Linked DNA regions of Homo sapiens. The protein of the gene in region 1 interacts with the protein of each later gene in a biochemical or structural test. Each region holds a gene or a part of one and is shown in the gene's direction. Other genes may lie near its edges.

Region 1 (16,357 bases):
CAGAGCTCTGTGCAGACTGTAGAGGAAGGCCTCTTTTCTCTGCTGTGTTACAAGCTGTCAACAGGCATCAAAACAGAGATACCTGAACTTCCTGGGGTCCTCTAGGGACAGTCTCTTCAGTTCTTATTTGTAACAGAACTTGGATATGAGTTCAAAGTAGGGCTGAGCCAGAAGCCAAAACTAAGCAACACTCTTGTTGTTCCCATTGATCACGGAGGCTCTGTTACCAGGCCAGGCCTGTTGGTCCTGACTCTCCAGCCCTACTGCAGGTGGTCCGTCCCACTAGTTCCCAGAGAGCAGCAGCACAGCTTGGAGGAGGCTGAGGCTCTGGGACTGCACAAAACATACTAGCTATCTATGCAACTCTGTCCTGTTTAATTCAGGAGCGGGAGCTGAAACTTTTAGAAGCTATGGGACACATATTGGAAAAGAAAAATCAAAGCTTGGCAGGGCGTGGTGGCTCACGCCTGTAATCCCACCATTTTGGGAGGAGGAGGTGGGCGGATCACTTGAGGTCAGGAGATCCAGACAAGCCTGGCCAACACGGTGAAACCCCCTCACTACTGAAAATACAAAAAATTAGCTGGGCATGCTGCCGGGCACCTGTAATCCCAGCTACTTGGGAGGCTGAGGCAGGAGAATCACTTGAACCCGGGAGGCGGAGGTTGCAGTGAGACGAGCTTGCACCACTGCACTCCAGCCTTCCACTCCAACAAGAGTGAAACTCCATCTCAAAAAAGAAAGAAAGAAAAAAGAAAAATCAAAGCTTGTTGAGCAAGTGGCAAGGTTCAATATTTATGCAAATCTAAGGAATACAACAACATGTACATTGGCACGTCATTCACAATATGCTGAGTTAATATAAGTGATGACAGTCATATGTTCATAGACATACAATTTCAAATGCAAATTTTAGGATAGTCAGTTGAGGGTAGAAATTGTGAGATTTTTAAAAGAAAAATGCCTTTTTCATTTTATGTTGTTTCTCATCTGTGTCACTATGGTATGACTCTAGGTGATTTTGTAAGAGCCAACACTTGCACTGTTTTCTGAACAACTCCAGGCTTCTGTTTGGGGAAACCCACCCTGAGGGAGTGAAGCAGGAGTTGTCGCACTGTGGGGCACACGACACAGGGCAGGATTTGGATCCTGGTCAGAATTCTGCCTCTACCTCTTGCCAGCTGTGCAAATCCCTACACAGAAGTTGTGATATAAAAGATCAAGAGAGCAAGATAGATGATGAGAATTGTATATTTTTTCTTTTCTCTTCCTTCCTTCGTTTCTCTTTCCTTCCTTCCTTCCCTCTTCCTTCCTTTCTTCCCTCCCTCACTCCCTCCCTTCCTTACTTCCTTCCTTCCCTCCCTTCCTTCCTTCCTTCCTTCCTTCCTTCCTTCCTTCCTTTCTTTTTCTTTCTTTTCTTTCTCTCTCTCCCTTCCCTTCCCTTTTCTTTTCTTTTCTTTTCTTTCCATGTTTTGCTACATTGCACAGGCTGGACTCAAACTCCTGGGCTCCTAGTAGTCTCATCAGCTACTAGATACTCCTAGAAGCTGGTGATACTATAGGCACATGCCATGACACCAAGCTTGATAGGGATTCTTAATTGATTTTTCCCTTGGTCTGTATTTGATCTATTATTTGACCTGTTTTAAGTATTTTTCTTTTATTTAAATGACAATTTTTTCCCATTTTTTCGAGTCAGGGTCTCACTCTGTCACCCAGGCTGGAGCGCAGTGGTATGATCATAGCTCACTGCAGCCTCAACCTCCTGGGCTGAAGCAATCCTTCCACCTTAGCCTTCAGTGTAGCTGGGAATGCAGGTGCACGCCACCATAACAGTTATTTTTTTTGTTTTTCCTAGAGACAGCATCTCACCATATTGCTGGGCTGTTCTCAAACTCCTAGGCTTAAGTGGTCCTCCCAACTTGGCTTCTCAAAGTGCTGGGATTATAGGTATGAGCCACCACGCCCAGCCTCAATTCCATATTTTTCTTTTTTTTTTTTTTTGAGATGGAGTCTCACTTTGTCACCTAGGCCGGAGTGCAGTGGCACAATCTCGGCTCACCACAACCTCCACCTACCAGGTTCAAGTGATTCTCCTGCCTCAGCCTCCCGAGTAGCTGGGATTACAGGCGCCCATCACCACTCCCAGCTAATTTTTGTTTTTAGTAGAGACTGAGTTTCACCAGGTTGGCCAGGCTGGTCTCAAACTCCTGACCTCAGGTGATCCGCCTGCCTTGGCCTCCCAAAGTGCTGGGATTACAGGCTTGAGCCACCGCGCCCGGCAGTGACCATATTTTCAATTTAAAATTTCTGATTCTTTAAAAAATCTGCTTTTCTCCAGCTGTGCCTTGAGGTTTCGATGAATAACATGGCTGGATTTAATTTATTAGTTGGGCAGGCACCTAGCAGAGTGGTAATTGGAAGAAAGGATTTTAAAGACCTTGAAAAAGGCTCCCTATAGAAAGGCCACCTGAGCATGGCATTCCTGTGGAAGGGCCTAGATGTGAGCAGCTCAAGAGCAGACTCCAGGTTCACAAGGATTTCTACCATTCCCTAAGCAAAGTCCATACTCCTACACCTCGACTTTGCCAACATATTCCTTCCAACCGATAGCCGTACTCCCATTTCTATCTATCCAAATCCTGCCCATCCTTCAGGGTCAAATTCAAAGTGTCCCCTGTCCACAACACCTTCTTTCCTCTCCCCCTGTCCACCCTCAGCTGGAAATGATCCACTCCCCCCACCCCACCCCCACTCTCCTGCAAATGCCTACAGCACTTGGTTCCTCTAACGTACTAGTTATGATTAATGACTGGCTATATGATTTACATGGCCCAATGCAAGATGAAAACCCAGGGCCCTTGCTAAAAATTCAGGCTGGTCAACATGGTGAACCCCTGTCTCTACTAAAAATACAAAACTTAGCCAGGCAGGGTGGCACATGCCTGTAGTCCCAGCTACTCAGGAGGCTGAGGCGGGAGAATCGTTTGAACCTGGGAGGCGGAGGTTGCAGTGAGCCGAGATCGCACCATTGCACTCTAGCCTGGGTAAAAGACCGAGACTCTGTCTTGAATAAAAAAAGAATTTCAAGACAGCCACAGCAGAACATTCCACAGGCACAGGGTCCTTTTAAGTGCAGGGGCCTGCACAGGACACACACCTGGAAAGCCAGCCCTGGTGATTATACTTGCAGACTCCAATGGGAAGCTGAAAGTCCACTGGGCAAACACAATCTTTTAAATGCCTACGGAATCCCCTCCCAGGGAAGCTTCTGAGCTGCTCGCCTCTCCTTCCTCAGCCCTGTTTCATTGTCCCAGCACCTCTGTGCCTGCTTCTCCACCTTGCAGGAAACTTAGCTGTGTACTCGCATCCTGAGCCCCAACCAGCCACTCTGACCTATGCCTACTGCCTTCTTCTCTTTGAGTCCTGCCTCATTGGGTTCCCTGAGTTGGCCGCTGTTCCTTGTAGCACAAAGAATGGGGAAAGATTGATCGGTTACTTTCCTACAGTACCACTATCCCCCTTTTGTTCCGGTTCCTCTTGTTACAGGAAGTTGCCGACACACAACCCTCTCTTTGCCAGCCTGTTGATGGAAAAAGATGTGACCTCTAGCACTGTTTACCTGTTATATTTCTACCGTCTGAGTAAGTGGTAATATAGCCGCTTACCTGATGCCAGGAATGCTAAGCATACCGTATTACTTAATGCTCTCATTAGTCCTTTGAAGTATACATTGCTGCTATTCCTTTTACAGAAGGATAAAATGAGATGCAGTGAGTTAAGTAATTTGCCTGAGTTGTTAAAGCTAAGGAACCCTTACTCTTAGCCACCAGGATGTATCGCTTCTAGAGACAGGCCACTCGAAGGCAAAGACCGTATCTTGGTCTTTAGTGTTCCCTATATTGCCTCTTTGTGCTCTCAGTCCTAGTGTATTATTAGAGCTATAAAGAACTCTCATTTATCGGCCAGGCGCGGTGGCTCATGCTTGTAATCCCAGCACTTTGGGAGGCCAAAGCGGGTGGATCACCTGAGGTCAGGAGTTCGAGAGCAGCCTGGCCAACATGGTGAAACCCCATCTCTACTAAAAATACAAAAATTAGCTGGGTGTGGTGGGCACCTGTAATCCCAGGTTCTCGGGAGCCTGAGGCAGGAGAATCGCATGAACCCAGAAGGTGGCGGTTATAGCAAGCCGAGATCGCGCCACTGCACTCCAGCCTGGGCGACAGAGTGAAACTCCATCCCAAAAAACAACAACAAAAAAGGACTCCCATTTATTGATACCTTACCCTGTGCCAGGCCCTACGCTGAGCATTTTGCAAATGTTATCTCACTAAATTTTCAGCTCATCTCTACTAGCCAGGTTTTACTGCCCGTATTTAACAGATGAAGAAACAAAGGCAGAGCCAGATTTAATCTCTAGTTAGGTCACATAGCAAGTAAATAGTGGCACCAGGGTTTGGACTTGGGTCTATCCTGATTCTCCATGTAAGCTCCCTCATCAGGTTGCTCCCACACCTCTTCCTCCCACCCATCCAGCCTCTCTCCATCTTACCCTTACCTTCCTGCAAGTATCCATCCTCCCACGCCTCAGTCTCCATTAGAATCTGAATTCTGGCAGGGCGCGGTGGCTCACGCCTGTAATCCCAGCACTTTGGGAGGTCAAGGCAGGCAGATCACCTGACGTTAGGAGTTCGAGACCAGCCTGGCCAACATGGTGAAACCCCATCTCTACTAAAAATATCAAAAATCAGCCGAGCGTAGTGGCGGGCACCTGTACTGTAATCCCAGCTACTCGAGGCTGAGACAGGAGAATCGCTTGAACCCAGGAGGTGGCGAGATTGTGCCACTGTACTCCAGCCTGGGTGAGAAGAGCAAAACTCCGTCTCAAAACAAAACAAAACAAAACAAAAACAAAAGAATCTAAATTCTGGAGGCTCAATCTGTTGTTTAACCTACCAAATGATCTCGCTGCCTGTTGCATAATCCCAGCACAGACAGAAAACTGCCCACATTAGCTGCCCTGTCCCTGTGATCTGCACCTTCTCAATTTCAATTTGTCTCCTTTTACTATTCTAACAAGAGCATGAGAGGCAAAGACTGCCCATATCCTCAAGTGTATTCAAGAGATCAGACAACAAAGAGTGAAGAAATGCTACAGCCAAGAGCCATGCCAGATCCAAGCAGAGTAGGAGGCTTAGTCCCCTCTTATGGGTCTTCCATTAGCCTCATATATTTTCCCTCTCAACATTCAAGAAGTCTCATCAAGGTAGTCTATGGAGAAGAAGGACTTGTTTGTTGGTTTCATTGTTAATCTTTCTGAGGGTCCAGATATGCCTCTGAAAACCAAGAGAACCCCTCCTGTCCTGCCAGTAGCAGCTGGCTAATCTTCATCCTGTAATTGTTGAATTGTCCACATGTACACACATGTGCATGCACCAGATCACACCCACTCAGAGAGCTAAGAATTAATTTCACTCCTAATCACAGGATGATTCATCCTATTATTTAATCATTGGTGCTAGTCTTGCCTGGTCAATAGGATGATGATGTAGTCTCAAAACTAATTCACCTGAGAAGTATGTAAAGGAATAGGGATATTGGAGGCCAGAGAAGGAAAACAAGATACAGCACAGATGTCTCTAAATACCTGAAGCATAATATAGAGACCAGGGATTTAGTCTGTATAGTGTTTTAGTTCGGGTAACTCCCGAGGGCAGAATCTGGGTTTGTTGGTCAGGTTACAAGGCAGGCAGGGAAATCTCTTAGTAATCAGTGTGAAGCAACAATGGAATGGGCTGCAGGAGTGGGAGAGAGGCCCTCATATCTCCACATCCTCAAGCAGACACCAAACACTGGAAGGAAGCTCTGCATTGAGTGATGGGCTGGTCCAGAGCAACCCCGTCAGTGATCAGGTTTGGGGCCCAACTGTGCTGGGCAGGAGGCAGGTGCTGGAAATCAAGGGTAAATAAGGCATGGACACTGCTGTCATCTGGAGACCCTTCCACCTCAGGGACTGTGCTCCTCAGGCTGAGGGCAAGAACCACAGCTTACACTTCCCTCGTGTGTTCACAATAGTTGTATGGCATCAGACCCAACAGTGAACACCCAGAAGACAAGAATTATACCTTCCATTTGTGTTTCCTTAGCACCTAGCACAATGTCCAAGAAACAGTTTTGAAGTTAAGGAATGTGTCCAGAGAATACCCAATATGTGTCAATAAATGGATCCACAGAATCTTCAATATTGACTCATTGTTGAAAGGACCCATTTTAATCCCAATAGCCTGCATGATGGATAAAGAAGTGCCTAAATGTAATAAGGAGCAATGAATTACTTGACTCCAGTGGCCTCTGTGTAACCTTCACTGGTAAGGCCATGGCTTTTCTGAAAATCTCCGTGACCAAGGACATCAGCAAGCATAGCACAGGGCTCATTAGAAGAAGATGATTTCACCTGCCATCTTCCTTCTTGTCTGAAGAGTGCCACTCACTCGCCTTGCTTTGAAGACATCAAAGTCTGGTGACAGAAACCAGCAGGAAAGATGGATGTGACTATATGCATTGACTACCATTTTCCCTGAAAAACATCTGACTAGAAACAGTGTAATCATTTACCCTTTATTTACCTTCTAAACCTGAAATAGAGATAACTTTAAGACCGGCTGAGTCATTGCTAAAGTCAACAAGTCAAAGTGTTTTTTGGAAAAACTAAGATCCAGATATTTTCTACTGACTGAAATTATGGGCACAAACTAACTTTTAAATTATTTAATTGTTGACCAAACTCAATACATTTTTCTATTCCTTTCTTTTTTATATTTTACATTTTTATTTTCATATCAACAAGATTGAGTTTGAATCAGTTTTCTTTTCTAATATAGCAACATGCAGCCATGTTTTCTTTTTTATTATTACTATACTTTAAGTTCTAGGGTACATGTGCACAAGGTGCAGGTTAGTAACATATGTATACATGTGCCATGTCGGTGTGCTGCACCCATTAACTCATCATCTACATTATGTATTTCTCCTAATGCTATCCCTCCCCCCTCCCCCCACCCCACGACAGGCCCCGGTGCGTGATGTTCCCCACCCTGTGTCCAAGTGTCCTCATTGTTCAATTGTTCAATTCCCACCTATGAGTGAGAACATGCGGTGTTTGGTTTTCTGTCCTTGCAATAGTTTGCTCAGAATTATGGTTTCCAGCTTCATCCGTGTCCCTACAAAGGACATGAACTCATCCTTTTTTAATGCAGCCATGTTTTCTATTCTCAAGAATAATGATTTACTCAATTTAGTGTCTAGCAGGAGACTGGTGTCTAGCAGCCAACCTCCTCAGCTTTTCTTGGGTCCCTTATACTTTTGGTTTGGAGTTAATACAGAAATAAAGTGATTGGGCTAAATCCAGGCCCTTCCATTTTCTTGGCGTGTGATGTGGTCAAGTTCCAGAACCTCTCAGCCTTTTTTCCCTCTGTAAAGGAGGAAGGATAAGAATAGTTCAGCTCTCATGCCTTTTATGAATAAGTCAGTAACAGGAGCTATGATGATGCTGTTTTCCTGAGCAGGTGCTGTTCCAGGCCTGGAAAGCTCAAATCTCCCCATTTCTTTAACCGTGAAGTGATTCTCTTATAAGACAGAATGTTTAAGTGAGTGTCAAGGCCACACTAAACAGTATGTAGCAGTAAGTCTCCTTCCTATTGTACAAAAGAGAATGGAAGGTTTCCCATTGTTTCTTATGTGATGATGAAAAGTTTACTGCAAGGACTGCTGTGTTTTGGGGCCCATTGCACACATAGGATCACCAGCCCAAATGTTAAAAGAACTTCCCTTGAAAGAGAAAAAATATTTGATGAAGTAGAAACGTTTTTTCTTTTTTGGAGACGGGGTCTTACTCTGTCACCCAGGCTGGAGTGCAATGGCGCGATCTTGGCTCACTGCAACCTCCACCTCCCGGATTCAAGCGATTCTTCTACCTCAGCCTCCCGAGTAGCTGGGATTACAGGTGCGCACCACTATGCCTGGCTAATTTTTGTGTTTTTAGTAGAGATGGGGTTTCTTCATGTTGGCCAGGCTGGTCTCAAGCTCCTGACCTCAGGTGATCCACGCTCCTTGGCCTCCCAAAGTGCAGGGATTACAGGTGTGAGTCACCGCATCCAGCCAGAAACATTTTTTCTATCCTGGGTTTCGATTATGCCTCTTCCGCAGGGCAGGACAAAGGTACAGCAAGAGAGGCCTAGAGCACAACACTTAAGAAGCAGCAACCTCAAGGGAGAGGCCTCCTTGAAATTTGCACCTTTACCCACTCCCTTGCCCTACTCTAGTCCAGGCCTTACTGTTCCCTTTATATGTTCTCAAATGCAATTTCCTTTCTGGGGTTTGGATTTGCAGAGCTAGGTCCTGCTTATCAGGGCAGCGTTGGAGGAAGGCTTGCAGAGCCCTTTTTCCACCCCAAAAGATGGAGCCATTACTTATGGTCATTTTTGCCACCTGCGGTTGGGCCCACATCTCCCAACTTTGGTGCTGAGTACAAGGGGCTCTTCCTAATTATGGGTTGATGACTTCCAGGGTGCTTGGTGCTAAGTTACTTTCACAAGAAACCAGATGGGTCCTTGGACAAAGGTAATTTGCTTTCATTCACTGGTGCTTTGCATTGGCGAAGTAAATCCCAACCTGTCTCCACAGGAAAATATGATAATTTGTATAATAATATTATGATAGTTTCATATATTAACATAAAGTTCTTTGCTGATCAGGCATTGCCGGACTAAATGAGTCAAGATGAGCTCCTCCAGAGCATGTGGTTCTCATCACTCTGTGTCCAGGCATCTGATAACACAGATAGTAGGTGCTCAATAAATGTTTGTTCATTGAACATATGAATGAAGAAACACCCAGTCTTTGAGTGAAATTAATACCCAGTCTATCAGGGCCTAGGCCCTTTAAGTACCAGAAAGGGCAGAGCCATGAACCTGACCTAATGATTTAAAAACCAACCACTGCTATTTCCTCCCTACAGAAACCAGTTGTCCTTCTGGCTTTTGCTGACAGGCACTTTTTCATCTTCTGTTTTGTGAGAGGCTGGTTTCTAGCTATCACCTTAGCTCTTGCTGCCTGACGGGATATTTCATATCTTTCTATATCTATCCTCTCCCTCCTATACCCACATCCACTAATGGAACCAACCTCTGAGAAACTCTGACCCTGAGCTCTGACCCTGGTGATCTTTGTTGTTGTGGCTCCTGGCCTGCAACTATAAACACTGAATTCTGCCTTGGAATAGTTTAAATACAACACTTGCCCTAGTGGCTCCCTGGCAAAGAGTCCTTTTGACAAATTCAGGAACCCTGGTGCCATCCTTAGCTGCTGCTCTACTTTGGATGTTTGTCCCCCCACGTCTCATGTTGAAATGTAATCCCCAATGTTGGAGGTGGGGCCTAATGGGAGGTGTTTGGGTCATGGAGACAGATCCCTCATGAAGGGCTTGGTGCCATCCTGGTGGTAATGAATGAATTCCTGCTATATTATTTTCCGTGAGAGCTGGTTGTTAAAAAAAGAAAGAAAGAAAGAAAAAGCCGGGCATCTCTCCTCTCTCTCACCAAGAGCTTGCGCACGCCAGCTCTTCTTTGCCTTCCGCCATGAGTGGAAGCAGCCTATAGCCCTCACCAGAAGCAGATGCCGGTGTCATGCTTCTTGTACAGCCTGCGAACCATGAGCCAAATAAACCTCTTTTCTGTATAAATTACCCAGCCTCAGGTTTTTCTTTATAGAAACACAGATGGACTAAGACAGCTGCCATCTTGAGATTTCTGCCATCAGCCACACAAGGGTTGCACCCAGCAAGCACTGCCCGGCACCCTGCTGCCATCTCCTGGAGATTGTTGATCCTCTCCTGCTCCTTAGACTGTTGGGCCTGCTCTCCTTGACCAGTTCTAACAAGCCCTTGATATCCTCAATACACTATCAGCCATCATAGTGTGAATGGAATGAGGATTATTTTATTGCTGTGATGTGAGCCTCATAGAAAAATGCACAGAAAAGTAACTAAAATAATGCAGCAAAGGACCAGAAAATGGAGGAAATGCCTATCTCCTACTGATATGCAAAGAAGCTGGAGCCAGTTGGATCAAACTGACCCAAGATTACTCATGAGTATATGTATTCAGCACGTGAAGATCACTCATGAGTCCCATATACATTTGGCAAGTGAGAATCTTTTAAAGTTTAAAACTGGTGTCATCAGGCACAGGGAACTACCCATTGGCACTAATGCTACAGCCATCTTGGAAAACATACCAAAATATCATCTATTTTCTTCCTCATTTCCAGTAAGTAAATGGCAACATTTCTTTCTAAGGAAACTGAAAAAATCTAAGGGATCATTTTACTCAGCTTGATACCAAAGTTATTTTAGTTTATAAGTATTAGACATATGGAGTAGCTGTGATAAAAGCAAAGATATTCATAAATTACATTTTTAAAAAAGAATTCTGAGAGTGTTCACATATCTAAGTTCCCACAAAAGTCAGCATGAAAGCAGTAACAGAGGAAAAGAGAAAACAGCTGAGCTGACATCACACAACAGCTAAATGGAAGGGGGATAAATTGGCATAGCCAAATAGACTATTTGACTATAAAAATTAAGAGCTTTAAAAATGTGCAAATCATTAGAATCAATAATTTTACTTCTAAAAATCTATCCTGAAAAAAAGAATCAAAAGCCAAAGATTCCTAAATAAAAAAGTGTGTTTTTTTGTTTTTTTGTTTTTTGTTTTTTTTTTGTTTTTTTTTGTTTTTTGTTTTGAGACAGAGTCTCACTCTGTTGCCCAAGCTGGAGTGCAGTGGCACAATCTCCCCTCACTGCAACCTCTGCCTCCCAGGTTCAAGTGATTCTCCTGCCTCAGCCTCCCAAGTAGCTGAGATTACAGGCGTCCAGCACCACGCCCAGCCAATTTTTTGTATTTTTAGTAGAGATGGGGTTTCACCATGTTGGCCAGGATGCTCTCTATCTGTTGACCTCATGATCCACCTGCCTTGGCCTCCCAAAGTGCTGGGATTACAGGTGTAAGCCACCGTGCCTGGCCTGTAAACATGTTTTTAAGTCTACTTAATGACATAGGAAAATATTCAAGTTAAAGCAATAGGTGAAAAAATTTTAACAGCTGTATATGCAGTATAATCAAAATTATATTAAAATATTATTTTACATAGAAAAAAAGAAAAGATATAAATGCATCAAAACATTAACACTGTTTATCTCTGCATGATGAGATTGTGAATGATTTCTTTTTTGAGACAGAGTCTCATTCTGTTGGCTGGGCTGGAGTGCAGTGGCACTATCATAGCTCACTGCAACCATAGCCTACTCCAGGTCTTATGCTATCATCCTGCCTTCATAGTTGGGATTACAGGTGTGTGCCACCTTACCACACTTTATTCAATTTTTCTTTTTTTTGAGTCGGAGTCCCACTCCGTTGCCAGGCTGGAGTGCAGTGGCGCAATCTTGGCTCACTGCAACCTCCACCTCCTGGGTTCAAGTGATTCTCCTGTCTCGGCCTCCCGAGTAGGTGGGACTACAGGCGCGCGCCACCACGCCCAGCTAATTTTTGTATTTTTAGAAGAGACAGGGTTTCACTGTGTTGGTCAGGTTGGGCTCAATCTCTAGGCCTCGTGATCTGCCCACCTCAGCCTCCCAAAGTGCTGGAATTACAGGTGTGAACCACCGTGCCCAGCCCTTCAATATTTTTAAAGATTATATAAAGAAAAGCATAGCTTCCACACACAGTTCAGGAGTCAGGGCCCTGAGTGAAATGGAGTATAAGGTGATGGAAGATTGCCCCTGGCTTTGAGGATCATCTTGCTGGATGACCAGAGTTTGTTTTTCATCTGGAAGAATCATGGTCCCCCTCTTGGAGAGAACCTGGAGTCCTGGCCACACCTTCTGAGCTTCTGACATTAAGATTCGGTGTGGTGTGTGAGCAGCTGGGAGTAAATGTGAGAACAGTCCTGCCAACTACCTTCTCTGCCCCATCACCACTCACTTCACCTCCCTCACCCCGATTCTCACCCCAGAAAATCAATATTAAGCTTCCCTTTGGAGGGGCCCCTCTTCTTTCTTTTTTTTTTAACCAGTTTTTTTTTCTCTGAAGCAATATCAAACATTAGAACAAATTCACCCACACACAATGATGGCCTCTAAATATTTGAAGACCATGTTGGTCTCCATGAGAGGGCTTCTTTGCTTCAGACTAAACCAAACCAGGTCCTTGTGTGATATTTCCCAAGCCTCTCTTTATCCTGCCAACCCTCCTTGGATGTCACACTTGGAATTGTCAAGGGTCACTTAATAGGCAGTGCCTGGAGTCAACACTGGCCCTCTGTTCTGGCCAGAAAGACACACTGTAATTCTGCTGAGTCTGCAAAGAATGTTCAAGGGGTATTTGTGTCCGTAGCTGCTCGTGCAGCATCTCAGCCTGCGGTGTCAGACTCGAACCCAGAGCTGTGTCAAATGAGTCAGGACTCCCCTCTGCTGCCCTTGTGCACTGGCAGGGGCACTAGGTTACTAGTGCTAGGAGACTCTGGTCAGTGCCCATCTGTGCTGTCACATGCAGGGCCCTGGCAGTGAGGTCTGGAGAAGGAAGAGAAGGGGCAGGGAACCCCACACGTTTTGCTGGTCATTTCCCACCGTGGTCCTGCCACGGGAACCCCCTTCTTCCACCTCCATTCCCCACTTTAGGCAGAAACATCTCTCATCCTTTTTCTTTTCTCCAAGAATCTTCCCCCAAAATCTTGGCATCTCCTATACACATCTGTACCTTTGCTATATCTGTGGGCCTTGTTCTCCCTGTAGGACTCCTCTTGGAAAGCTAACTCCCCCTGACATTGGAGAATTTTATCAAATTGCTGAGTATCCTCCCTTCCCTCTCACAGACCCCATGGCATGCTCAGATCACAGTAGAAGACATTTCCTCTGCTGCCAAACCCATGGCACTCTGAGGCTGACTGTGTCCACCTCATTCCCTCAGCTGTCTTCTCTTTGCTGCTATTACCATGTTCCAAGCAGACTTTGGAGCATCTCCCCCACAGCAGCATGGACTTTGGCAGATTTCTTGGGGACCAGCGATGTCCTAACCTGTTTGCTTTTCCAGGGCTGATGTTTGCAGGGTGTTTTTTTTTTTCTTTTGAACCAAAGCAGAAATCATCCTGTATCCTTATGCAATTCTTCCGGCAGGCTCCAACAGATAAATAAAGCCCACCACCCTCCATGGGTCTACCTTTCCCAGCAGAGCACCTGGGTTGGTCCCGAAGCCTCCAACCACCTGCACGCCTGCCAGGGCCTCTCTGGGGCAGCCATGAAGTCCCTCGTCCTGCTCCTTTGTCTTGCTCAGCTCTGGGGCTGCCACTCAGCCCCACATGGCCCAGGGCTGATTTATAGACAACCGAACTGCGATGATCCAGAAACTGAGGAAGCAGCTCTGGTGGCTATAGACTACATCAATCAAAACCTTCCTTGGGGATACAAACACACCTTGAACCAGATTGATGAAGTAAAGGTGTGGCCTCAGGTAAGTGGACCTGCTGTCTATGAGCTGAAATAATGTGTACATGGAGCTCAATCAGGTGCCTCAAAAAATCACCATCACCCAGTGCAAATGAAACCACAGAGGAGTAAATTCTCTGATTTCTTCCCAGGAGTGAGGGAAGGGGCAGGCAGAGGGCAGGAGAGGAGACATTCTGTATGGCAGTCATGGGTGTCAGGAGGGAGCTGGGTGGGGTGTGAGGTGGTGTGCAGGAGAAAAAGTGCTTCAAATGGTAGTGTGCAGATCACAGACAGAAAGTGTAACTTGCTGGAAAAACTAGGACCCAAGAGACCAGCTCCTAGTTGCCAAGTTACCACTGGCTGAAAATCACGTATCTGTCTTTGGTTTGGTTTCTCTCTAACAAAGACTGAGAATGAATAAAACTAGCATCTGGCAGATGCCTACTATATGCCAGGCCCATTCACATAGATTATCTCATTTACTCTTTCCCGGTCCTGCCTCCTGGTGCTGTGTGGTACATATATTGTTCTTGTCTTACCCAAGAGGAGACCAAGGCTCTGTTGTGTGTGTGTGTGCAGTTTTTTTGTTTTTTGTTTTTGTCTTTTTTTTTTTGGTCCAAAATCATATAATTACTAAGTCTTCAGGCTGGGATTTGATTCCATATCTGTGTTCCTTCTTCTACACAAACTGCCTCCCAAAGAGAGTTACCCACATCCCAGAGAGAAGTCTTGGCATAAACACAATTCACCTCCTCACACACTAGACAGGAAACCAACGCAGCTTGAAGCCAGTGACAAGAAAAATCAAGCTGGAAATATGCCTCGGGGATCAGTCAAGAGATTTGGAGAGGTGGAAAGAAGCTGTCTGCCTACTGCCTGTTTTGAAATTAGATTTATTTCTGATTAAGGACAATTCTTTCAGCAAATATGTATTACAAGCCTTCCTTGGACAAGAACCAGAGATATTAGGTTGAACCATATAAAACTGCCATTTTTCTATATCAAAAGCAACCAAATATTGGCCGTTTTAATGGTTCAACCTAATACAGTGGTGAAAAAGGCACAATATGTGCCCACAAGAGCTTACAATCTAGGTTGGAAAATAAGGTCAACAACAGGAAGCCTGGACCGACTGACGACTGCCATCCGTCTCACAAAGAGACAAAATATTTGAAATCAGGATTGCTCCGGATGGATTTTAAGAGTGCTGCAGCCATATTAAAGCACAGTGGTGGTTAGGAGGAAACGCTGATCAAGTCAGGGGAAATGAACACGCAACACGCACATCTGAGGGAAAAGGTAATCATGAATGGGCATTGTGACTTTTACTAAAGGCAGAGCTTCAGAGTTGGTTCCCTTGAGAAACCCAGGTGTACCCGGTTCCTGTTCGCCAGAGCTGTGAACGCTTTCAGGCAGTCACTCTGGGCACACCTGGACATCATAAAATGCGGAGCTTCTCCCAGGGGAGGGGATGCTGAGGCTTCAGGTACTAGTGAATCAGGCAGAACCAATGAGAGGCAAACAGAGCTGGGCTGAGAGGAGAAAAGGCATACTTGTACCTTCTGGATTTTTCAGGCTTCGAAGACAAGATACAGAAACAGGTGAACTCACAAGAATATCTCCAAGGATTGTTGCAAGCTCCCTCGTGTCTACACTAGTGACATCCAGTTTCCTGTCAGAGGGAGACATGCCCTTCCCCATTATCGCCAGCAGGGGGAAGTAGAGAGCAGCATCGTTGCATGCCGGCACCTGCTGCACAAGCCAAGACAAAGGAAAAACCAAGGACAACAGCAGCAAAAACCTCTAGGAGGGAAAAGAAAACGGAGGAAGGAAGGAAAGCAAATAATGAAAAGGAAGAAAGAAAGAAGGAGAGGGAGGGATAGAGGAGATTAAAAAAAGACAGTAAGATATTACCCTACACCACCTTATTTTGCAGCTTGTCTGAGAAAAATCCAAACTTGCATTTTCCAAAGCACTGCTTGAAGAGTGAAATCTTAAAAAATTAAATAAATAATAAATACAAATAAGTGTTAACACCCATTTGTAGTTTTCAAATAGAGCTCAGAGTGAGGGCTGTGGCTCCATCGACTTGTTCAAGCCCAGGACCCCGTCTGCTTTGCGAGCATCATCTGGTGCTTCCTTAATCAACAGACGAAGACCAGACAAGCCCTGGTCATTGTCCTGCCCACAGGCCAGTTCAGAGCTAGACGGAGTTGCAGACTGACAGTAAGAATGACATTTCCCTCACCTCTCCAAAAGCGGGGTGCTCTCAAGCCCAATGAGGGCGCATACCGTGGACCGCACCACAGGATCAGGGGAATAGGTTGCTCACGGCTTCACTCTTTGTCTCCACAGCAGCCCTCCGGAGAGCTGTTTGAGATTGAAATAGACACCCTGGAAACCACCTGCCATGTGCTGGACCCCACCCCTGTGGCAAGATGCAGCGTGAGGCAGCTGAAGGAGCATGTGAGTACCCTTCTTAGGATGACTGTAGGTGGCCCTTCGGCCAGCTCCACCGATTCACCCAGCGTCTCAGCCTGCCTTCTTGGCTAGCCAGGGTGCAGTTTCTAAAATTGCCATTTGTGGCCGAGCGCAGTGGCTCATGCCTATAATCTCAGCACTTTGGGAGGCTGAGGCAAGTGGATCGCCTGAGGTCAGGAGTTCAAGACCAGCCTGGCCAGTATGGTGAAACCCCATCTCTACTAAAAATACAAAAATTAGCTGGACGTGGTGACGGGCACCTGTAAATCCCAGCTCCTCGGGAGGCTGAGGCAGGAGAATCGCTTGAACCCGGGAGGTGGAGGTTGCAGTGAGCCAAGA
Region 2 (15,606 bases), on another chromosome or scaffold:
TACAACGTCCCTATATAGTAGGGTTATAATTCCTGTTTCATAAAAGTGGAAAATGAGGCTTAAACAGGTAAAGAAAATTGTAATTAAGTTCTTAGAGCTAGGAAGCGGCAGAGATGGAATTGTGTGGTGCTGATGTCAGAACTCGTGTGTTTAACTATTTCACTCTGTTGGCATATTAAGTCCTCCTTTCTATTCATCGTTATGCTTATCTAATACATGATTCCACCTTGCTTAGGCTGGGATACCTATGCCTGAATATCAGCAACCTCCTGGTGATATTTTCTCCCATCACTCATGGAAATGGAAAGGCAGTAGAAAGTAGTGTAGAGACTATAAAAATCATACACTTAGATCAACCTGGGTGAGAGACCTAACTCAGTCATTTAGTTGTACTGTGACTTTAGGATAATTATTCTGCATTTCTATAACCTCAGGTTTGTTAGATGTTACATGGAGCTATTAATAACCCTGTCTACTAGGATTATTGTGAGGATTACTCTATAGAAGTAAGGCTTGTATTGTACACGCAAGTACTTGGCCCAATGTAAACCTCAATATATTTTATCTTAAAAAAGGAAAAGAAAAAAGAAAATTTAAAATAAATGAACAAACAAATAAATAAAATAACTGGAGTATGGGTTCTTTAACTCAATGCCACAGTTGCAGAAGCTAATGATGCACTTTACAAATTTGTCTATCTCAAACCTATTGCAAGGTTTTCTCCCATAGTCAAACTTCTTCTTAGCTATAACTTTACATTTGGGAAACTGACATCCCAAAAAGGGAGACACTTTGAAACTAAGTAAGGCCGATGGTTGTGATAGCAATTGGTGTACTGGAGGCACTGCATTAAAAAATATACATTTTGCATTACTTTGTAATTACTTTGTAACTTTGAGTCTTATTTATTTAACTGTGAAAAGGGATTAGTGACCAATAATTTATGTTTTGAGAGGCTTAAAGGATTTGAAGTAGGAAAAGTGCCAAGGTCAATGTTCGGTGCGTAACAGACATACAATAAATAGATGTTCCTTTTCCTAGCAGCTCTAACACAAAATATGCTACCATAGGAAACTAAGAATCATTTTCAAGTCAAATATGGACTAAACTATTTTATTAAATGGACAATATTGACAGAATTCAGTGTGATGTGATAAAAATTTTAGACAAAATGAAACCTGTGGTTTTTCAATTCTGTGTCTTTATAGACAAATAGCCAAGACTTTCTGCCAATCAGATGTTCTTTCTACACTTAACCAATTTGCTATTTTCTCTGTATCTATTGCTATTAAGTGGAACAATATGTTATTTTAAAAGCTGTATAAAATATAATACAGCCTCAGATGCTAGGAGGAAATGAAAATAAAATATTTAAACTTTTATATTTATAATACTCGATCTTTGGAAATCACAGCCATGCAAGTACTATCTAGAGGTTTAGTGGGTACTTTGGATGTAAAATTATTACCCCAGGTGCTCCACATATGGCAGATCACTTGATTATAGACCTCTCCACTCCTTCTGCATAAACATTCTGGATTTAATAGGCATAAGTAAATGTTAGCTGTTTCTACACAGACATTTTGCAGAGGTATTTGATGCTTTTATGGAAAAGTCAATTAAGGCTAAGACCAGCACAGTATATCAGTGTTAATTTTTAATGATGCTCATTAATGAAATAGACAATTAAGTTTGTACATGGGTTTAATTTATACGTAATCTCTTCATTATGGTTCGAATAGTGACTTTCCCACTTTATAATTACTATCTTTTATCAACGTCAGTTTTAGCCCATTAACAAAGGTGGAAGAGAATAATGAGACTCAGCGTTGACTTCAGTTCTTCTATTCCAAGAACAAAAATTGACTACATGATAGAAATCATCCAGGTTTTTGTTAAAGTCAACCTAAGAGAAAAATAGCAAGGGCTTCCACTACTTCCAAAAGCACACATTATTATAAAAGGGATGAAAAAAAAAGATAAAAGTAAAGCTGATTCTTTGAAACTGTGTGTCTTTTAGAAAATTGATGGCATATGTCTTCTTTAAGTTTGTCCACATTCTGTACTTATAATGTTTATCTGCTAATTTAACATCTTTAATTCCACATTCCAGGTCTTCCTCCTTCCCTTACGGAATTACATCTTGATGGCAACAAAATCAGCAGAGTTGATGCAGCTAGCCTGAAAGGACTGAATAATTTGGCTAAGTAATAATATTCTTTCATGACATTCTATCAGAACAATGGCTAGGTATATTAGTGCTTATATGATAAGAATTATAAACATGATGATTGATTTTTGAGTGTACTACATTTCACTGCTGTTGTTGTTTCTATAATCTCAAACTTCAGCATATCCAATTATTTCTTGAGAAGAAGCCAATGAAATAGTGCCCTTACTAAAACCACCAAGATCAGCTTCATATTTTATTAATACTATACTGTTTATAGATTAGTTATATTTTATACACAAAGTGTGTGATTAAATCAATATGTGCATTTAATATGTTCTAACTTATTTGCATCAAACAGAAAGTTAAGTAAATTATAACACAGTTGCTAGAATTTGAAAATCCATTAAAATGAAATCTACCAAGACAGAGAAATATTGAGCATCACACAAATTACTATTTTAATAATTATGAGATTCTCTAACCCCCTCTTCTCTGAAAAGTTTAAAATAAAATATCTCTGGGCATTTAATGTAGATCAACAAAAGAAAAGCTTTTGTTGTTGTTGTTTTTGCTGGCCCTTCTTAATGATTTTTTTTAAAATAAGTGATACTAGTACTTGTCCTGGTTTCAAACATAACTTCAATCTGGCAAACGTTTTCACTTGTCTTCAAGGAACACTATGTTCTTTTTGATCTGTACATATTGCTGACTGTCCCTACAGAGAAGCACACTATCATGCCAGATTTACTCATTCCTGTTGTTATATATAAATTTCATGGTGGATAAATAAATATAAAATATATCTTTGAATGTGTATATATATATATATGCATGTGTGTGTGTATAATCAACTCCTTTACTAGGTAAAATATTCTTTGATGGGAAAAGTGGTTTTTGATCCATGAGACCTCTGTCCCTCACAATGCCTAGCATAATATCATGCACATAAGTTTTCAAGAATATTTGTTTATTAAATATACAAATAAATGTTTGAATAAGTGAACAGTTTTTAAAAATAAACTATTAGGAATATTATGTTCCAATATTATGGTTGACCATAATTTGATGTTGGAACTTAGGATATTATAAGGAATAGGAGACTATGTCCAATCACGTTCTGTCAGATGAATCTCAAAGACAGTAACTTTGAGCCGAGACCTTAACAATAAATGGACTTTGTCCAGGCTCAGAGAGGTTGGAGAAAGCACTCCAAGAACTGGGAAGAGTAAGTGCAAAAACAAAAAATGTCCTTTCCTATAGACTTGATTAACTACACAATGCTTGTAAGAAAGGCATCCATGTGTGGTGTTTGCTTTCATTTCTGCTTTCTGTTGCAGGTTGGGATTGAGTTTCAACAGCATCTCTGCTGTTGACAATGGCTCTCTGGCCAACACGCCTCATCTGAGGGAGCTTCACTTGGACAACAACAAGCTTACCAGAGTACCTGGTGGGCTGGCAGAGCATAAGTACATCCAGGTAATGCAAAGCCACTGCTTATGTGAGGAATATCCAAAAAGCAAGACCCCCACCCTGCTTATGGGATGCTGGGAAGCAGGAAGCTCTTCTTAGAAGTTTTTTTTCCAGAGTGTCTTAGTTAGAATTTCTATGACAAAATACCATAAAAAAAATTAAATCATGAAGCACAATTTACATTAGCTAGATTTCAATAAAGTTTTTGATTTAGAAGTATGGAGATGAAACTTAAAGTCTTCTGTAATGCTGATATTTTTTTCAGTAGGGGTGGTGATGTTGGTGCCATAGTGAGTAGGGGGAGTTTGAAGCCACAAGTAAAATAAAAATTCTTTTTTTTTACTGTCACTAATTTTAATTTTCAAATTATTCAAGAATTGACTGGAAAGAGCTTCTTTGGTCTAGCTCCTGATTCTTTTTGACATGGCCTCATCATTTTTCTTTATTTCCTCTAAAAAAAAAATGAGATACGTTTGCAGAATGTGCAGGTTTGTTATATAGGTATACGTGTGCCATGGTGGTTTGCTGGCCCTACTGACCCATCCTCTAAGTTCGCCCGCTCACCCCCTACCCCCTGTTGTGTGTTTTGTTACCCTCTCTGTGTCCGTGTGTTCTCAGCATTCAACTTCCATTTATGCGTGAGAACATGCAGTATTTGGTTTTCTGTTCCTGTGTTAGTTTGCTGAGGATGATGGCTTCTAGTTTCATCCATGTCCTTGTAAAGGACATGATCCCATTCCTTTTTATGGCTGCATAGTATTCCACGGTGTATATGTACCACATTTCCTTTATCCAGTCTATCATTGATGTGCATTTGGATTGGTTCCATGTTTTTGCTATTGTAAAATAGTGCTGCAATAAACATTATGTGTGCATATGTCTTTATAGTAGAATGATTTATATTTCTTTGGGTATATACCCAGTAATGGGATTGCTGGGTCAAATGGTATTTCTGGTTCTACATCCTTGAGGAATTGCTACACTGTCTTTCACAATGGTTGAACTAATTTATGCTCTCACCAACAATGTAAAAGCACTCCTATTTCTCCACAGCCTCATCAGCATCTACTGTTTCCTGACTTTTTAATAATCACCATACTGACTGGCATGAGATAATATCTCATCTCCAGCCACAGGGAATCATTAATCTATTTTATCATTTTTGTTTGTTTCATAGACCATAGTTTTGTGTAGATTCCAGGAATACTTTAACATCTAGAAATTTTATAATTTTAACTCCTGTATTTGGTTTTATAATCTAATTTTGAGATAATCCTAGTATATGATATGAGTCTAATTCATTTTCTGTATGTGATAGCAATTGTCCCAATGTCATTTGTTGGAAATAATATTCTTTCTCCAATGAATTGTCTTGTCACTGTTGAAAATCACTCGATCATAAATGTAAGGGTTTATTTCTGGACTTTCAATTCTATTACATTTATCTATATGTCTAGTCATATGACAGTATTATACCCTTCAATTACTGTAGCTTTTGATTACGTTTTGAAATTAGAAAATGTAGGTTCTCCAACTTTGTTCTTTTTTTTCAAAGTTATTTTGGCTATTCTGGTTCCTTTGCATTCCATATCAATTTTAGGATCTACTTTTTCATTTCTGGAAAAATATTCTTGTAAGGCTTTGAAAGGTATTGTTTTGAATCTACAGATCATTGGGAAGAATTACTATCTTAATAATATTGAGCCTTCCAAGTCACAAACAAGGGTTATTTATATCTTCTTTTCTTTTTCTCAACAGTTTTTGTCATTTTTAGCATACATGCCTTGCAATTCTTTTACTACATTCATTGTTTTTCATTCTTTTTGATGCTGTTTTGAATTGTTAATTTTTTTATTTGTTTGCTGCTAATGTATAAACATACAATTGATGTTTATATATTGAGCTATCCTGGTACTATGCCAAATTTGTTTTTAGTTGCAGTAATTTTTGTGAGTTCCTTTGGATATTCTATATTCAGGATATATTATTTAAAAATAGACAGCTTTAGTTATTTTATTTGGATTCTTTTAGGTCTCCCCCTCCCCCACAACCCACCCTTTGCATTGGCTGGAATCGCCAGTGCAATGTTGAACAAAGGTGATGAAATTAGACATCTTTGCCTTATTTGCTAGTTTAGGAGGAGGGAGCATTCATTTTACCATTAGTTACGATGTTAGCCACAGGTCTTCTATAGATGCTCTTTATCAAGTTGAGGAAGTTCCCTTCTATTTCTGATTTACTGAAAACATTTATTATGAATTTTTTTCTTACATGTTTTTCCTGCTTCTATTGAGATAATCATGCGAGTTTTGGCCTTTATATTTTTGATATAGTGTATTACATTGATATTACTTTGATTGATTTTCATAAGTTAAACCAATTTTACAACCCTGAGATAAATCATGTTTGGTCCTATAGCATGAAATCATTTTATATGTTGTGAAATGTAGCTTCCTAACATTTTGTGAAAGATTTTTTGTCCATATTCATAAGAGGTATTTGATTACATTTTTTTTTCTTATGATGAATTTTGTCTGGCTTTGGTCTTAGAAAATATTGACCCCATAGAATGAGTTTGGAATCTACTTTTATTTTGTTCTACACAGACTAATACTTACGTCTTGATATTTTGTTCTCTCACTTTCAATATTAACCATAAATTGCTCACCAAACACCCCTTCCTTTACTTGCTAATCACTACTGGAATATAGAGGATGGTAAATGACAACAAGAAACTTCCAAAATATGAGAACCATAAACCATACATATAAGTGTTGCTTTCACTTTAATATTCCTTGTTTCTGTTTTTATATGACATCTACTAATTCGCTTTTCAGCCCTTACAAAAACAAAGCCGTTTTCACCAGCACATGAATGTGAATGTCCTAGTGGGTAGAACAATATTTCAAATTTTTTTTTTTTTTTTTTTTTTTTTTTTGAGTCGGAGCGTCTCGCTCTGTCACCTAGGCTGGACTGCATACAATGGCACAATCTCGGCTCACTGCAACCTCCGCCTCTCGGGTTCAAGAAATTCTCCTGCCTCAGCCTCCCGAGTAGCTGGGATTACAGGCACGTGCCGCCATGCCATGCTAATTTTTGTATTTTTAGTAGAAACGGGGTTTCATCATGTTGGTGAGGCTGGTCTTGAACACCTGACCTCATGATCCATCCGCCTCGGCCTCCCAAAGTGCTGAGATTACAGACATAAGCCACCACGCCCAGGCTTTCAAGTTATGTTTTAAGGGAGTACTTCATAGGTTTTATAGCTCACTTAAGATCTTGTTGGTGGCAGGACGCAGTGGCTCATGCCAGTAATCCCAGCACTTTGGGAGGCTGAGGTGGGCGGATCACGATGTCAGGAGATCGAGACCATCCTGGCTAACATGGTGAAACCCCCTCTCTACTAAAAATACAAAAAATTAGCCGGGCGTGGTGGTGGGCGCCTGTAGTCCCAGCTACTCGGGAGGCTGAGGCAGGAGAATGGCGTGAACCCGGGAGGCGGAGCTTGCAGTGAGCCGAGATTGCGACACCGCACTTCAGCCTGGATAACAGCGCGAGACTCCGTCTCAGAAAAAAAAAAAAAAAAGACCTTGTTGTCTTAGTGTTATATTCTAACCTTGCTTGTATGATTTCAGAGAAGTTGCTTCTTGACCTACAGAACTCATATCCTCAAAGTGAACTGTAAACTCATTTCTAACATTCTTTGTATAATTCCGGTTTTTAGGGACCCTAAGAAAATCTATGGCCAAATTACCATTATCTTAAACATGATTGTAAAACATAATTCAGAAAAAAAACTCTGATTAATTATATTGCACTGTATTCAAGTAAAACGTATTACGTAAAATATGTATTTGTTAAAACTTCCTAGGTCTATTCTAAATGCTGTGATGTTTAAATATTTAAGAATTTCTTGGAGTTTGTGATTCTTTATTTCAATTCCAGTACTTTATGCTCTCTTTTTCTTTTTCACTACACAGCACTTTCTCATTCTATATCATTTTGTTAAAAGGTGTATATATTTTTTGTCCTGAAAACATAATATTTCATGTAGACCCAATATAGTCATGTAGACCTGATATATGAAATAACATTTATTCATTCAACACATATTTATTGAACACCTGGTCTGTTCTAGTACTGGAGATACAGCCATAAACAAGCAGAACCATTCTTGTCTCATGGAGCTTTTACTCTAGAGGAGAGAAACAAACAATATCAAATAAGCATAATATGCTACATATTGATAATGCTATGAAGAAAAACATGTAACGTAATTCTGCCCCAGAGAATGGCAGAATGGGATGGTCAGGGAAGGTCTCTCTGGTAAGAAAAAACGACTTACATGAGGCAACAAGCCTTGAAGACACCTTAGAGATTATTCCAGGTTGAGTAAACGGTGTTGATAACTTAAGAAGAGATCATGCTTTGTGCATTAGAAGAGCAGCAAGTAGACCAGATGACTGGCTTTTACAGTAAGAGAAAAGGAGGTCAGAGTAGAAGGATGTCAGATCATGTAGGATTTGTAGGCCCCTTTGAGAACTTTAGATTTTATTATTCTGCATGAGATTGGAAACCACTGGAGTTCTGAGGCAAAGAACATATAATTTGGTTTACTTTCTAAAGCAATTGCTCTGAGAGCTTAAAAAAAGAATAAAATTTAGGAAGGCAAAAGGGGAAGCAGGAATAATAATCAGGGCAACTTCAATCATTTGGAAGGAAACAATGGTGACTTGGACAAGGTTGTCGGAGTAGAGGTGGAGAGAACTAGATTAAGTGTACATTTTGAAGGCTGAGCTAGCAAGATTTGTTGTTGATTATGTAGAGAGCATAAGAGAATTGGAGCTCAAGGATAATGACAATGTATATAGCCTGAGCATCTGAAATGATTGGCATGCAATTTACTGAGATGGGGAAGACAAGACTAAAGAAGGGAAAAGCAAATTTTCAAAAGGAAGGGAGAAATCAAAAGTTTAATCTGAGAAGTAGTCAGTTATTCAAAGTGGGGCCTGTCGTGGTGGCTTACGCCTGTAATCCAAGCACTTCAGGAGGCTGAGGTGGCCGGATCACTTGAGGTCAGAAGTTCTAGACCAGCCTGGCCAACATGGTGAAAACCCAACTCTACTAAAAACAAAAATTAGCCGGGCATGGTGTGTGTGCCTGTAGTCCCGGCTACTCAGTAGGCTGAGGCAGGAGAATAGCTTCAACCTGTGAGGCAGAGGCTGCAATGCACTGAGGTCATGCCACTGCACTCCAGCCTGGGTGACAAAGCAAGATTCCATCTCAAAAAAAAAAAAAAAAAAAAAAAGTGAAGGATTAAAAAATAATAAAAAAAATAAAATGTTTACCTGAAGGGCCTCAACATATTTAGAGAATAATAATTATTTTCTATCGTTTCATGTTGTAGGTTGTCTACCTTCATAACAACAATATCTCTGTAGTTGGATCAAGTGACTTCTGCCCACCTGGACACAACACCAAAAAGGCTTCTTATTCGGGTGTGAGTCTTTTCAGCAACCCGGTCCAGTACTGGGAGATACAGCCATCCACCTTCAGATGTGTCTACGTGCGCTCTGCCATTCAACTCGGAAACTATAAGTAATTCTCAAGAAAGCCCTCATTTTTATAACCTGGCAAAATCTTGTTAATGTCATTGCTAAAAAATAAATAAAAGCTAGATACTGGAAACCTAACTGCAATGTGGATGTTTTACCCACATGACTTATTATGCATAAAGCCAAATTTCCAGTTTAAGTAATTGCCTACAATAAAAAGAAATTTTGCCTGCCATTTTCAGAATCATCTTTTGAAGCTTTCTGTTGATGTTAACTGAGCTACTAGAGATATTCTTATTTCACTAAATGTAAAATTTGGAGTAAATATATATGTCAATATTTAGTAAAGCTTTTCTTTTTTAATTTCCAGGAAAAAATAAAAAGAGTATGAGTCTTCTGTAATTCATTGAGCAGTTAGCTCATTTGAGATAAAGTCAAATGCCAAACACTAGCTCTGTATTAATCCCCATCATTACTGGTAAAGCCTCATTTGAATGTGTGAATTCAATACAGGCTATGTAAAATTTTTACTAATGTCATTATTTTGAAAAAATAAATTTAAAAATACATTCAAAATTACTATTGTATACAAGCTTAATTGTTAATATTCCCTAAACACAATTTTATGAAGGGAGAAGACATTGGTTTGTTGACAATAACAGTACATCTTTTCAAGTTCTCAGCTATTTCTTCTACCTCTCCCTATCTTACATTTGAGTATGGTAACTTATGTCATCTATGTTGAATGTAAGCTTATAAAGCACAAAGCATACATTTCCTGACTGGTCTAGAGAACTGATGTTTCAATTTACCCCTCTGCTAAATAAATATTAAAACTATCATGTGACTTCATGTAATCAGGCTGAACATTTCTACAATTACTAGATGTATTAGACGTAAGTATTTTCTTTAGTTAAACCACCCATGTTAGAAATGTTTTCTGTAGAATTTATAAACAACTATCAATGCAGACAATTTAATAAGCCTGGGGATGATTTACTTACAGTAAACATTTATCAAATTGTACATTTGTGCTATCAACAATTAATAAGCAAATATGTGAAAATAGTTTCTGTCTTCTATGAAGTTAGATATTTGATGGTTAAAACCCCTATAAATCATAGTTTCATATGGGAAAAAATAATTGAAATACAGTGTAAATTTAAATAATTTATTAAGTATAGCAAATAATTGAAATATGGTGGACTAAATTTTGTCATAGAAATATGTGCAAGTTATAGTAGTGGCTCACATGAGAGGTAATCAATTCTGCTAATAGTAGCAGAATGAGTGCAGTGGAACATGAAAAACTTGAGGAGATAACAGTTGAGGTGGGTTTCCATAGATGCATAATAGTTCAAGAGCAAGATTTGGTGGGGAGGCACTATTCAAGACAGGGACTAAGTTCAAAATCCAAGACGTATGCTGGGACACACCTCTGACAGGTTGGCATAAAGGAGGCTTAATCAAACTATTTTTCTTCTTCTGAAACAGAAGCAATAATTTTCATTTACATTTGACATATCCCGAGGTAATATTAACATTAGGGAAAGTTACTCTTTTCCATCTTTCCACATTCTTGCAGGACCATAAAATCTGAATTTTCCAGTATTTTTAATAAGAGGGAAGAAACCTCTCTTTTTCTTCTCTTTTTCATCTCCCAAGAGATCCTCCTCTCATGACTACAGTTGAATAGGTGGTTTCTATTGGAAGACATTCAGGAATTCAAGGTGCATGTCCATAAATGGACTTTTTTTGTTGTTGTTCAGAGCTGGACCTTGAATGATGCATCCTTCTCTCTGTTGTAACCATGAATAATGCACCCTTCATGCTATAGCCTTTAACGATTCACCCTTCTTATTGTAACCTTGAATGATTCACCCTTTATGGTGTAGCCTTGAGTGACGCACCCTTCATGTTGTAGCCTTCAATGATGCACACTCCATGTTATAGCCTTGAATGATATACCCTTTATGCTGCAGCCTTTCTCTTATGGGGAAAAGCCTGCAGATATCCTGCTGCTTAACTGACAAGTGTGGTGAGAAATAAGTAGAAATCTAAAGAGGGGAAGACCATTTTGGACACTTATCTGCAAGGCAGATCCAACACACTTTTCCAGTAGTCAAGCTACTTCTAATTTTGTTCAGTATCAAAATGAGAAACAGGCCTGATTCTCCAGCACTCTTGTCAACACAACTTCCCCCCATATTTATATATATACACACACATATATATCTTTATATATATACACACATATATATCTTTATATATATATATTTATATATATATCTTTTTGCATATATACATATATATGTATCTTTATTTCCTTTGAAATAAAGATAAATATAGCTGATTTCTTTGGCTTCGACACTTACTATTTGCATGACTAAGGGAAGCTAGTTAACCTTTCTGTGACTCATTTCCTTGTCCATAAAATGGGAATATTAATTGTACATGTCTTATGGATTGGTGTGTGAATTCAGTTAGCGAGTGTAGAATATAACTTATAGATCAAAGTAGAGTAAATGGAAAGGGCTCAACTATGGTGTTGCTACTGCCATTGTTATTACAGGCACACAGTTCGAGCTATAATCATTTCAAGGGAAATTCTTATGTGTCAGTTCTGGATCGAGGTCTGAGATTCTGCATTTCAAACAAACTTCCAGGAATGCTGCTGCTTCTTGGTCCACACTTGGAGAAATAAGTCAGCAGAGAGTCCTCTCGTTTCCTATTGTACCATGTCTGTCTTTTGTCTCCTGCTTATTGGCCTCTGTAAGGAACTCACAGCTGCTATAATAAAGTACCAAAAACTGGGTGGCTTAAAACAACAGAAACTTACTTTCTCACAATTCTGGAGGCTAAAAATTCAAAATCAAGGTGTCAGCAGGGTCAGATTCCTTCCAAAGCCTTTAGGAGAGGACCTTTCCTTGCTCCTCCTAGGTTTCTGGTTAAATCTAGGTGTTCTTTGCCTTATGGCAGCGTGACTCTAATTTATGCCTCCATCTTCACCCTCACATGGCCTTCTCTCTCATGTGTTTGTGTCTTTTCTCTTCTTCTTCTATGAACATGAGTTATATTGGATTAAGGCTCACCCTAATTTAGTATGAACCCATCTTAACTTGATTATATCTGCAAAGACTCTATTTCCAAATGAAGTCAGACTCACAGGTATTGGGGGTTTGATATTGAACATATCTTCTGGGAGGAGACACAACTTAATCATTAATATCCACTTTCTTTTTTCCTTATTAAATGTTTAATTTTTTTGTTTTCATTAAAACTGTTGTTCGATTATGGGTGCTTCACATAAAAGGTTGGAAACTTAAAAATTTGTCTCTGACCCCTCCTGGTTGGAAAGGCCTCTGTTGTACATTTATGCTAGCCTAGGCCATACCACTTTCTGTCTTCAGTACAGCCATCTTAGTTTATTCAAGTGACACAGATTTTCCAGAACACAGTATTCATGATCTTTTAAAGCATTTTTCTTCAAAGACTTTGATCTGGCAATAAATGTTACTATGTAATTCTCATGACATAAATTAGGCATAACTTGGATCTCCTCTTCTTCTGCTCATTCATTTGTCTGAATCATCACTATTATCTTTTTTATATTCCTTTACCGTTCTCCATAATGCTTTTCCAAGAAACTGGTTTATTCCACAATTTTATTGCAGAGGCAGCTGCAGGATATCATAATCTTATCTTTATACGAAGGAAGAATTGCCTAATCCCTCAAGTAAACTAAAAATGTTTTATACAGTCATTTCTCATTCATCCAATGTTCCAGGCAGTCCCAGTCCAAGACTGCCCCTTCACACACACAACAACTCTTCACAAGACTTCACTGTCCTTCAGACTCTCCTGCAGCACAGACATTCGAGGTTGCTGAGTCGACATTGCAGTTATTTCACTCTTGATTTTGCTGCTCAATTTTAAGTTTCCACACTTATTGCTAAAACATTCCTTCTAGTGGATCTGTTTATGTATTCAAGCACACCATCTGTCACAATTATTTCAAATCACAGGTCTGTGACAGACTGTCAATTTCACACCACAAAGTATAATAGTGGAAAACAAAGTAAAATCAAGAAAGGGAGAACACTAAACTTATTAAAACCATATACAAGCATACGCATTCAGGAAACTAAAACAACCTTCAAAGAAGTTGAACAATTTTGAGCCAAAAGAAAGGGCATATGCACACCCTACCCCAGTATAAGATAACCAGAAAAGGACTGGGTGAGTTGCCTCCTGAGTATTATGACTGCCATCAATCACTTAGGCATTGGAGATCAGGAGACTCTTCCCAGGCCACACATTCTGCAGTGACTGTGAGGGCTGAATGAATGCTTCCAGGCCATCAGGAACAAGCATAGAAACACAAATCAATTTTAAAATACACTCAAAAATGTCAAAATAATCCAACTTTTTTGTCTTGATCAGATATATCTACTAGCACATATTACTTCATTTTTTCAGCCAATATTTATTAATAACCTACTGTGTGCTTGACAGTGTTCTAGTGGCAGAGACACAGCAGTGCATAATGCCTTGCCCTCTGAAGCAGATGTTGCAGCAGGAGGAGACATTCCAGGACATGACAATTAAAGTGGAGGAATGTCAAGCAGAACTGGGGAATAAGGGATGTGAAGGGGGTGAGACTTGCTATTTTATATAGGATGGTCGGAAAAAGGACTTATCAGGAGTGACATTTGAGCAGGGAGATGAAGAACTGAAGGGAGCAAGCCAAGAAAAGAGGCCCTGAATTTGGAAAATACATGGCACGTTCCAACAAGAGCAGAGAGGACAAACGTGAGCAGAGTAAAGTGAGCAAGAAGAGATAATATATGATACAAGGTCAGAAAGGTAATGACAATCGCATCCTGTAGGACTTTTTAGGCCATTGTAAAGATGAGCTTTTACTCTGAGTAAGACAGAGAGCTATTAGAGGGGTCTCGGTAGAGGAGTGACTTGATTCAACTGTCTTTGAGAGGATCCCTTTGCGTGTATAGACTGTAAGGTAACAGGAATAGGCCAAGAGAGAATATTTCGGATGCTAGTGCAATAATCAGGTGAGAGATGATGAAGACTTTGACCTGGATAATAGTAGAAAAATTGTTGAGAAGGGATCAAAATATGGGGTTTGTTTTGATGGTAGAGAGGCCAGGGATGGCTGAATGATCAGATGGGGCATGAGAGAGAAAGAAAAGAAACAGAGATGACTTCAGGAATTTTGGCCTGGGCCACTGGAAGGATGAAGTCACCATTTACTGAGATGGTAATGACTGGGAGGTTGAGCTGGAAGAACTGAGAATCAAATATCTGGTTTTGAATCTGTTCTTTTTGAGATGCATATTCAACTTCCATATGGAGGTGTCAAGGAGGATTTAGATCTAGAATTTTGGAGCTCAAGGGAAAGGGTTGAGCTGTAGACATAAATTCTAGAGATGCCGGAATATAGATTGTGATCCTTCTTTATCAGCACAGAAATGACTTGACTTTGTCCAAACTAAGCAATCATACTGTACATGTTAGCAACACATTTTACAGGGCCAATTTGGCCTTTTGCAATGTTCTGTGGTTTCTAAGATAAATAAACATATTATATGTTTCCCTCTGGATGCCTTTGCTATGATCCTGTCAGCATTTCCAAAACAGTTCTTGCTTGAACACCACCAAGGAAAGAAAAAAACCTCTTGAGAAAGAAATCATTGTTTTTTTTTTTTTTTTTTTAAATCCCTGTGTTTTGGCTTATGAGTTTAAAACTTACAAAAACAGTCTAGTTTCTGTTTTCTTCAAGAATTCACATTAACAAAAGTGTGGCTTGGTGCCTGTTTTGAATGTGAGTTGATAACTTGCTGGTGGTTTGACAGTTATAAACAAACAGTCTTATAGCATAAAGAAAGCATATTCCTGAAACTGCAGGAGGTCTCATTGAGCCTCAGGCACTATACCAGCATGTTTAACTAGAAAATCATGAAAACACATACAACTTCTATAGCTAAGGCCATTTTTACATGGAATTGCAGCATAAAATGACTCCATCTAATTCTGTAAAAGTTTATATTGATGACTACTTTATAAAGCACCCATATTGCCACTTGGTCTGACAAAGATATGTGAAAAATATAAAAAATTTCTTGAAGTAATTTATTTTTCCCCCTCTTTCCACAAAACCAGGTATGTGTGTGTGTGTGGTTATTGTCTTCCAATCTTAACATGTTTATATGACAGAAAATAAAATTTTAATCTAACCATTCATTCATTTACTCCACTAATTCACATATTTATTGAGTACTTAGAATATGACAGGAACTATGCTAGGTCTAGAGAAAATAGAAAAAAAAAGTGCATTTTCCTCCCTCTAGTAGATAACTTTGGAATGTGAAAGTGATATATTTCAATAAA

Evidence for each region.
Region 2: the proteins of AHSG (region 1) and DCN form a complex in vitro, tested with the Homo sapiens proteins (one study listed by BioGRID).

The regions. Positions count from the first base shown.
Region 1 is NC_000003.12:186,599,793-186,616,149, forward strand, and holds the start of AHSG (alpha-2-HS-glycoprotein isoform 2 preproprotein), read left to right. Parts: upstream 1-13,267; 5' UTR 13,268-13,349; coding exon 13,350-13,562; intron 13,563-15,892; coding exon 15,893-16,003; intron 16,004-16,357. UniProt on the Homo sapiens protein: Promotes endocytosis, possesses opsonic properties and influences the mineral phase of bone. Shows affinity for calcium and barium ions.
Region 2 is NC_000012.12:91,139,697-91,155,302, reverse strand, and holds the end of DCN (decorin isoform a preproprotein), read left to right. Parts: intron 1-2,113; coding exon 2,114-2,207; intron 2,208-3,510; coding exon 3,511-3,649; intron 3,650-9,050; coding exon 9,051-9,245; 3' UTR 9,246-14,819; downstream 14,820-15,606. UniProt on the Homo sapiens protein: May affect the rate of fibrils formation.